Regions from separate parts of the Homo sapiens genome. Here region 1 is linked to region 2. A link means that fine-mapping ties the variant in region 2 to the expression of a gene that starts in the linked region. Tissue or cell type: whole blood. Region 2 holds a variant in brackets; the other region holds the start of a gene. All regions are shown on one strand. Distances are between the middles of the regions.

Region 1 (5,226 bases), 50 kb after region 2:
CTCACTGTGGCCAGGCATGGTGGCTCATGCCTGTCATCCCAGAACTTTGGGAGGCCAAGGCGGGTGGATCATTTGAGGTCAGGAGTTCAAGACCAGCCTGGCTAACATGGTGAAATCCTGTCTCTACTAAGTACAAAAATTAGCCAGACAGTGGTGGCATGGGCCTGTAATCCCAGCTACTCAGGAGGCAGGAGAATCACTTGAGTCTGGGAGGCAGAGGTTGCAGTGAGCTGAGATTGCACCACTGCACTCTAGTCTGGGTGACAGAGTGAGACCCTGTCTCAAAAACAAACAAATACCTCACTGCATGGAGCCACTGAGATTTGGGGATTGTCGTTACTGCACCAGAACCCAAATCATCCTGACCGCTAGGGTGTCCTAACTAGGGTTTCTTCCCAAAAGCAAAGGCATTTTTAAAGTTCGTGACATTTAAACAAAAGAGCAAATACCAATATCTACCACTTCGTCAGGCTAACAAACCCAAACAAAGCCAACAGCCAGAAGTTAAAATAAACAGATCATTAGGTTGAAAATAGAACTGTCAAAACAGGCACAATTGACTTCATTTAGTGATTGCAAAGAACATCAGGCAAGACACACGTGTGGTCATCATAACATTTATCACATGCTTAATTGCACATGTTTGACTAAGAAAAACACAAAGTATTTAAGCTCATCTGTAGTTCAAAGTGCCTATCCGTGTATTTATCTATTCATCCTGATGTATTTATTGAGCAACTCTTTTGTGCCAGGCACTGTGCTGTGTTGCGGGAAGTCAGGGACCCCAAACGGAGGGACCAGCTGAAGCCATGACAGAAGAACGTGGATTATGAAGATTTTATGGACATTTATTAGTTCCCCAAATTAATACTTTTGTAATTTCTTATGCCTGCCTTCACTGCAATCTCTAAACATAAATTGTAAAGATTTCATGGACTAAACTTATCACTTCCCTAATCAATACCCTTGTGATTTCCTATGCCTGTCATTACTTTAATCTCTTAATCCTGTCAGCCGAGAAGGATGTATATCGTCTCAGGACCTGTAATAATTGCGTTAAGTACACAAATTATACAGCATGTGTGTTTGAGCAATATGAAATGTGGGCACCCTGAAAAAAGAACAGGATAACAGCAATTGTTCAGGGAATAAGAGAGATAACCTTAAACTCTGACCGCCGGTGAGCCAGGCAGAACAGAACCATATTTCTCTTCTTTCAAAAGCAAATGGGAGAAATATCGCTGAATTCCTTTTCTCAGCATGGAACGTCCCTGAGAAAGAGAATGCGCACCTAGGGGTAGGTCTCTAAACTGGCCCCCCGGGGCGTACCTGTCTCTTATGGTCGAGACTGCAGAGGTGAAATAAACTCCAGTCTCCCATAGCACTCCCAGGCTTATTAGGAAGAGAAAATTCCCACCTAATAAACTTTGGTCAGACCGGTTGATCTCAAAACCCTGTCTCCTGATAAGATGTTATCAATGACAATGGTGCCAAAACTTCATTAGCAATTTTAATTTCACCTTTTGCATCTCCTTGAAATGTCTGCCTTTGCACACTCTCCCTGAAAGAGGAGGGCAAGGGAGCCAGGATAGAAAGTGAGGTGGAGAAGTGTAGAGCTCTGGACGGACAAGCAGGAGATACGCAGCACAAGGAAGCACACTAGGTAACACACCAAGCAGGGGAACCTGTCTTTCACTACATAGGCAAGATGCTACGGGAAATGGGCTCTGGGTTTACACAGATTATGACTCAGTTCTCTACTGTTGTGAAGCTGTGTTTGGATAAATCCCTCAACTTTTCTGAGTCTTATTTTTTCATTTGTAAAATGTAGATAGAAGACCTACTTTCCCACATTGCTCTCAGGTTTAAAGTACGTCAATTAGGATACAGCAAAGTCTGTTTGATACTGAAAACTTTCCAGCAACAATGAACCTTAGAACAAGTCATCTCTCATCTTTGCTCTTGCCTGTAACTACTAAGCGACTACTCCATCTTCTGTTCTTAGGGATTTTAAATTGTTGACGTTTTTGATTTAGTCAGGAATGCGTTGTATGGGGATATCAAACCTGCATGCTCTCCAAGCATTGACTGTAGTCTGATCTTAGTAGGTCGTGCACATATAATTTTACTATTTCTCAATTTATTTCGGTGCTGATGTAATTAGTAAAATACGATTTAAGAGTGTTATGATACTTTTTAAAAATCGTGATGTCTTTTCTTCATCAAAGAGATACTTAAAAGCACATAATCATCTTGTGGAGGCAAGTTGACAAAATCCTTTTTGAGATTCTAAAAGGAATCTTTGTACTTAAAATGTTTAAGGACCACTGATGTATTTTGGCTTCATGTATCAATTAGATTTAGATTTTATTGTTTTAGAGATGGGGGTCTCCCTTTGTCGCCCAGGCTGGAGTTGAGCTCACCTCAGCCTCAAACGCCTGGGCTCAAACTATCCTTCTGCCTCAGCCTCCTGAGTTGCTGGGACTACCATGGTGTGCCACCAATTTTTATAGAGATGTGATCTCGCTGTGTTTCCCAGGCTGGTCTTGAACTCCTGGTTTCAAGTGATCCTCTTGCCTTGGCTTCCCAAAGTGTTGGGATTACAGGCGTGAGCCACCGCTCCTGGCCCCGATTTATTAATAGATCTTATAAGGACATTTTAGGCCTCACGCATCAGTTTCTTAGGACAAGCTTTTCTCTGCACTGCATAATAAATCAGACGGCAGTGCAACAAAAAAACGGTGATGATTTCCCGAAGAACAAACCAAGTTCAGAAGCCTCCCTAATTGTCAGAACAGCAGGTAGCCTGGGCGGAGCTCTGAGGCTATCCTTAAACAGGCGCACTGAGACGCAAGGCGCTGGAAACAAAAGAGCTCCTCCTTGCGCCCTTCCGCCGCCCCACTTAGTCCTGCTCCGCCCCGGACACCCCGCGGCCCCGCCCCTGTGCGCGCTGGTTGGTCCTCGCAGGCATGATGAAACTTCCCGCACGCGTTACAGGAGCCAGGTCGGTATAAGCGCCAGCGGCCTCGCCGCCCGTCAAGCTGTCCACATCCCTGGCCTCAGCCCGCCACATCACCCTGACCTGCTTACGCCCAGGTGAGCCGGGTCCTGCGCCCCGTGCCCTGCGCCCCGCGCCAGCATCCTCCTCGCGTGCCCTGGGGCTGCTCCGGAAGGAAGGGGTGGAGGATGCGGTCTTCAGCCTGGCACCCGGCAGACGCGGTTCGCGGGCGCCTGCTGATGCTGCGGCTCCTGCGGTAGGGAGGGCGGGGCGGACGCCTAGCGATTGTTACGCACCTGACAGCTAGCGGAAGGACCTTTCTGTCCTGGTTCCCTGAAGCATCGAGAGGGAACCGCGGCCGGCAGGCCGGACCGCTCCGGAGAGGAGGCAGCGGCAGTTTGAGCCCCTGTAAATGTTATATGTGTACTTTTTTTTACTATGTGGCGTCGAAGCCTGTGGACATTTTCGCGGTCCGGGTCCCTGCGGCGGACGGGTCGGATCGTGCTCGTGGCCAGGGCGCAGTCAGGTGTCGCGTGGTCCTGATCTAGGAAGAGACTGCGGCCTTATCACCGTCTCGGTGTCTGCTTTCACCTTCAACTGCCCCCCTCCTCACCTGGACCGCTCACCCTCCTCCTCCCCTCTCACCCCGCCATCCCCACCAGTCCCCACCTGTCTCTGTAGACTGCAAGACTCATCAAGTGACTTGCTGAGCAAACCCTGCCGAGAAGAGGTCTGTTTAGGGACACAGGCGACCAAGTACAGAAAAAGGCAAAAGAACTAGCATGCCTTTTTCAATGGCTGTCATTTTGCAGGGCTGGCTTCAGATGATTGTTATAGCTTTAAATAAAAAGGACAGTTTTCATCTCGGCCCGTGGCCTACATTATTTCTTTACTGTCCATTGCCCTGGGCGCTTGACTAATAATTTAACAGCAGTTTTTTTTTTTAAATTTTAAATCATGATTCATAGCATTGCTGTAAGAGTAATTAGAGGTAAAGTAGGGCTTGAACCTGTCTGTAGTTGGTTACTTACTGAGATCTTAATATAAAAGTAAAGGGAGAGGGTGAAGTTGTAAGTAGCACTAAGTGGAATAGAAATTAAATGCACTGAAACTGCCATGTCCAGTTCGGTAGGCGCTAGCCACCTGTAACTGTTGAGCACTTGAAGTGCTGGCTAGTCCTAACTGAGATGTATTGTGTTAAATACACTGGATTTTGTCGTTGGAGTAGGAAGAACAGTGTAAAATATCTGCTCGATAATATTTTATATTGATTACATATATGTTAAAATGTTACTATTTGGGACATACTGAGTTAAGTTTATTTAAAATTAATTTCACCTTTTTCTTTTAATGGGGCTACTAGTATATTTAAAATTACATATGTGGCTTACATATATATTTATTGGACAGCACTGTTCTAGAAGTTTAGGAAGAAATAAGAAAAATATTGAGAACAGGTAGCGGCAGTAGGAACTTTGCCCTCCTATAAGACTGATTCCAATAAAAATAATAGGTTATAGTTTTAATTGGCTTTTTCCTACTAGAAAAAATAAGTGTACTTTACATGCCTCTTTGTTCTCCCTTTTTCCCCTCCAGTTTAGTGGTTAGAATGTATTTATTATAGCAGGATTAATACAGGGATTCACTAAGCAGCGTTAAGAAGACTTAGGTAACTGATTCCCTGATGACCATACTTGATTTTCAAAGCACTTTCCTAACCCGTTTTAAATTGATATAGAGTCAAAGGCAGATGGCTTATTAGTAGTCATCTCATTTAAATCTTATGGAATTTTTCCAGTAAATCTCAAATAATTTGTTATAGGCTATTTGGGCTATTTGGTCAAGTGCATGGAAGAGACAGCATAGGACATGTGGTACTTCATTTCCAAATTGCTTGAGATGATTTTCATTCTAACCATATATTATTTGGTTCTGGTTTTCCGGAAAAGCCAGCTAAACCTTTGGTTCTTTTAGATATAAATGAAATATCATCAAAGAATAGCTCAAAGTGACTTATGCAACTTGAATGTATATTTTTTCCTTAGGGTGTTTATCCCAAACTATTTGGGCATTTGCTGCAATTCGCAGTTTTTTTAAAAAAAACACCAAAATAGTTATTTTTCAAGTTAGAGATGTTTTAATTAAAACATCTTGTTTTTGGTGTATCCATTGACATTCTCAAAACGGAATGTATCTGGACCTCTGTGTACAATCTTCGTAGCACTCAG
Region 2 (5,226 bases):
GCCTGGGGCTCCTGTAGAGGTGCATCCACGTTGCAGGTATTTTCCCTTCTTGCTGAGGAGAAACCTGGGTTTCTCAGCTTTGGCACAGTCACAACACTTGGGGTCAGACCATTCATGGTGGTGGTGGTGGGGCCGTCCCGTGTATTGTAGGATGGTTAGCAGCATCTCTGGTCTCCATCCTCTAGGTGCCACTCTACCCTCCCAGCTATGGCTACCCCAGATGTCTCCAGATGGTTTCAAATGTCATGGAGCAAGGGAGTGGTACGTGAGCAAAACCACCCCAGTTGAGAGCCATTGGTCTACATTTGTGGAAATGTTTGAGGGTGAGAGTGTCGAGCTTGGGTCCCTGCTGTACCCTTTATGAGCAATGCGGTCTTGGAAAATTAATACTACTCCAGGGACCTCAGTTTTCTCATCTATAAAATGGAGATAAATGAGATACACTTTCATAGGAAGGTTATATGGGATTTACTGAGATAATAAGACAGTACATGGAAAATGCTGGGCATAGCATTTATTTATTTTTATGTTTTTTAAAGATGGAGTCTTACTCTGTTGCCCAGGCTGGAGTGCAGTGGCATGATCTCTGCTCACTGCAACCTCCACCTCCTGGGCTCAAGTGATTCTCCTGCCTCAGCCTCCCGAGTAGCTGGGATTACAGGTGCCCACCACCACACCTGGCTAATTTTTGTATTTTTAGTAGAGATGGGGTTTCACCATGTTGTCCAGGCTGGTCTCAAACTCCTGACCTAAGGTGATCCGCCTGCCTCGGCCTCCCAAGGTGCTGAGATCACAGGTGTGAGCCACCACGCTGGGCTGGGCATAGCATTGTAACACAGACAAAGCACAAAATACTTGGGCAATATCTTTTTACATTTGGCTTGTCTAGACTCCATCCTCCATCCCCTCATGCACTGGTGTGGTGCAGACCAGAATATCACCCACCTAGACTGCAGAGTGGATTTGGGTGGCATCTTGGCTTTCTGCACAAGACTTGCCTGTTCCCCACCACATCCCCCTGGTTCTCAGGGTCCAGGATTCCAGGAAGCAGGGATGTGGGCAGGCAGGGTAGGTGGCCCACCCAGTTCACTCCCACGCTGGGGACCTGCAGAGCTGGCTGTCCGAGACAGGGTGTTTGGACCAACATCTGGGTTTCTGGATTTCCATTTGAGCACAGCTGGACTACACAGGCTGAAGCTTTCTCTGCCGAGATATAGATATTTCCCTGGTGACGATCTTTCAAGCTGACATGAAGACATGGCCACCCACTGGAACGTGGTGTGTCTGCCGTGGCGCTCTTGTAATTTGTGAGGCAGGCTCCTGAGGAATGCAGTGCATAAGTGGGAAATGGTGGGAAGTTCTCGCATCCCCCCCTGGCCGAAAGTGCTACCTGCGCATGTTGGTGGACAGTCCTTTGAGCAGGAAGAAGACATGAAGCACATTCCTGTTAGCTACGACAGAGAGGGGCAGGGTACACACTGGACATTTCAAGCCCCTCCAGAGAAGCAAGTCTTACTGTGCTGGGAGTACTTGTGGAGTGCGGGCTGTGTTGCCCTGGGCTTTAATTATTTCAGGAACATTTAACCGCAGGGTTGGCAGGCCGGATCTTGATATGTGTTTCTCAGTTGGAAAGACTTTGGACCATAGGGAAATGTCTTCTCAATTCTTTTAATTTCATTAAGGTTGTCATTTTTCTTCTTGTGGCCTCTGGAATGTGACACAGAACTCAAGGGACAGGAAGGAGATGAGTTGGAGGCTGGGACAGGGGTCCCTGCCAGGGATGCTGGTGACTCACATGACGGTGTTGATGTGTGGAGTCCGGTGCCTGGTTTAGGGAATATTCGTGGGATATGTTCCAAAGGACTGACGGACCTATCAGGTACTGGAGGTGAATGGTCAAGTCTGATCTCAGGGCTGACAGTGTCAGGCAAGGACAGGAAGTTGACGTTGGACTCATTGGCTGAGGTTGCTTGGGACCCAGGGGGCAACGTGTGCCAGGACAGATGGGTCTGGGGCTAGGAAGGCAGGTTTGGGCTGGAGACTTGGGCTTGGGAGGCATCCCAGGTAGACAGTGGTTGAGGCTGTGGAAATGACCGTGATTGCCTGGGATGAGAGTGGAGACGGACAAGATGGGGGTTTTGCTCTAAGCCTGGGGAACCCACCTCCCATGTTCAAAGGATTCTCCTCCCTCAGCCTC[C/T]CAAGTAGCTGGGAATGCAGGTGCGTGCCACCATGCCTGACTAACTTTTGTATTTTTAGTGGAGATGAGGTTTGGCCAGGCTGCTTTCAAACTCCTGACCTCAAGTGATCGGCCCACCTTGGCTTCCCAAAGTGCTGGGATTACAGGCATGAGCCACCATGCCTGACCATTTTTAAATATTAATTTTTATGAAATATTTTCAAACACATTGGAAAAGTCAATCATGATTTGAAAACTTTATCAAAATCCAATCAAATGTCAGTTAACCACTTAATTGTGGATGAGTAAGGAGACTATTTTGACCAAAACGTGTTAGAACAATTACCACTTATAGAAATAATCTATGTTTTAATGTTTTAGTTGAATTAAACAATCTTTTATATTCTGTCCAGGCGCAGTGGCTCACACCTGTAATCCCAGCACTTTGGCAGGTCGAGGCTGGCGGATCACCTAAGGTCAGGAGTTCGAGACCAGCCTAGCCAACATGGCGGAACTGTCTCTACTAAAAATACAGAAATTAGCCAGGTGTGATGGCACACACCTGTAATCCCAGCTGCTTGGGAGGCTGAGGCAGGAGAATCATTTGAACCTGGGAGACAGAGGTTGCAGTCAGCCGAGATCACACCACTGCACTTCAGCCACCTGGGTGACAGAGCGAGACTCTGTTTCAAAAATAAATAAATAAATAAAATAGAATTCTGAATTTTATTTTTAATAATTATTTTGTAAAAAGAATGTCTTGTTTTTTGGAGTTGTTGAATTTATTTAATTGACAAAAATTATGTACAAGAGGGTACAACATGATGTGATTGAAGTATGTATACGTTACAAAATGGCTAAATCAAGCTAAATAACATCACCTCCCAGACTTATTTTTTTATGGTGAGAACACTTAAAAAATCTGCTCTCTTAGTGATTTCCAAGTGTATGTTATGTTGTTATTAACTATAGGTACCATGTTGTCCCATGGATATCCTGAACTTATTCTTCCTCTCTAAAAATGACATTCTGTGTCCTTTGGCATCTGCCCACTTCCCCACCCTGGCAACCATCATTCTACTCTGCTTCTGTGAATTCAACTTTTTTCTTTTCTTTTTCATCCTTTTTTTTTTGAGACAATCTCATTCTATTGCCCAGGCTGTAGTGCAGGGGTGTGATCTTTGCTCACTGCAGCCTTGACTTCCCAAGCTCAATCAATCCTCCCACCTCGGCCTCCTGAGTATCTGGGAGTACAGGCATGCACCACCACGCTCCACTAATTTTTGTATTTTTTTGTAGAAATGGGGTCTTGCTATGTTATGCAGGCTGGTCTCGAACTCCTGGACTCAAGCAATCTGCTGGCCTCAGCCTCCCAAAGTGCTGGGATTACAGGCATGAGCCACCATGCCTGGCCGAGTTCAACTTTTTTAGATTTCACATATAAGTGAGATCATGTGGTATTTGTCGTTTTGTGCCTGGCTTATTTCACTTAACATAATATCCTCCAGGCTCATCCATGTTGTCTCAAATGGCAGGATTTCCTTCTTTTTGAAGGCTGAATAGTATTCCATTGTGTATGTACACTACATTGTTGCTGGAAGTGTAATGGAGACCAGTTGGGGGAGGAGGGGGAAAAGATTCACTCTAAGTCTAGATGCTCCGGCACCCACCCAGGATGTGTGCAAGGAAGTGCAGGATGCTCCTGGTCTTGCAAACTGTGGTTTGTGGGACTCCAAAGCCCCTATCCTTCCACAGTGCTTTCTGTCTTGTTATCACATTTCCTTGGAGGAGAGCCCAGCCTTGGTGGAGAGCCCTGCTCTGGCTTTGTCCCTCGGCATGAGATGGCAAAGGATGGTGCTGCTGGGAGACCCTCACGTCTGCACACTGGGGGCTGCTTGCCTTCTCCATTCCTCCTTCAAGTATCTGAGCAGCTCCTGTGTGCCAGCTGCTGGTCTACAAGATGGATCGGTCCTTGGAGATCATGCTGTAGCAGAGGAGGCAGGCTGTAGCCCACACGCCACAACCAGCCCCCTGCCTGTTCACACAAATAAAGTTTTATTGGAATACAGCCACACCCATTTCAGTGCATATTGTCTGTGGCTGCTTTCCTGCTACAATAGAGAGTTGAATAGTTGGGACAGAGACCTATGGCCTGCAAAGCTGAACTATTTACCATCTGGCTCTCAAGAAAAGGGAAAAAAATGCTTATCTTTGTACCCCGACAGTCTTAGATTAAGAGTACTTTGTACCACCCTGACGTCCCAGGCAGCCATGAGTCCAGCCACCCCTGAAATGTACACAAGTCTGGGCTAGGGTTGCAGCAGGTGAGTCCCAATTTTGCAGATCTTTGGCATCAGGGGCACAACCCAGGATTTTGAGTGGGGTTTCCTCACCACTGTGGCTGGGCACTGGGCTAGTGTGCTTTCTGATTTTTGTATGGGGAAGAGAAAGGAGGGAGGAAATGGCAACTTGTTGCCCTGTTCTAACATTTTCCTAAGATGGGTCTCCAGGCAAGGGCTTGGGATCTCACCTTACACAGCTTACAAAACCCAGTGAGGCCGGCTGTCTTGGCGCTGCCACTCTGAGGGATGGAGCCCCCAAATTACTAGGAAGGGAGAAAAAAGAATGGTTTCTGCAAGCACAAGAAGTGGCGTTATTGAAATTAACATTTCCCCCAAGTTTTATAATGTCTAGGCATGCATATTTAAGTGTCTGTCTCAAAAGCTCTTGCTAATAACCAGATGGTGCATTTAATTTCCTTTTTTTGTTCTCTGAGCAACATGCAGCTTCCTACACAGCCCTCCTTGCAGGCAACTGCACTGAGGTGACAGTCCTCCTGACTGCCAGCACAGATCCCCAGGGCCTCTGAGAGCCCTGTATTCTGGGGGCAGCCTTTCCCCCTTCTATTTGGCCCCAGCTGGAAGGGGGCAGGTTACCCACAGTGCAGCACAGGGCTCCTGCCTTAGCTTAGCTTAGCTCCTGCCTAAGCACAGGGCTCCTGCCTTCTCTAGGGAGTCTGGCTCCCTCTGACCCTCTAGACCTCACCAGCT

Evidence for each region. PIP is the estimated chance that this variant, and not a neighbour inherited with it, causes the effect.
Region 1: ASNS starts here. The variant in region 2 is the best candidate, but not a certain one, in a credible set for the expression of ASNS in whole blood (TOPMed, PIP 0.66).

What each region holds. Positions count from the first base shown.
Region 1 is chr7:97,870,221-97,875,446 of GRCh38, reverse strand. It overlaps ASNS (asparagine synthetase (glutamine-hydrolyzing)), which reads left to right and starts at 3,039. Exons shown (of 13, transcript NM_001673.5): 1 at 3,039-3,096. All of the region lies in intron 7 of CZ1P-ASNS (CZ1P-ASNS readthrough), which reads left to right. RefSeq lists silencers at 2,808-2,897, 3,208-3,317 and an enhancer at 2,443-3,158.
Region 2 is chr7:97,920,447-97,925,672 of GRCh38, reverse strand. All of the region lies in intron 3 of CZ1P-ASNS (CZ1P-ASNS readthrough), which reads left to right. It also overlaps a transcript of ASNS not described here. Among named protein-coding and RNA genes, the nearest start is that of MIR5692A1, 41 kb to the left of the region's middle. The variant C/T (reference allele first, on the strand shown) is at 2,198.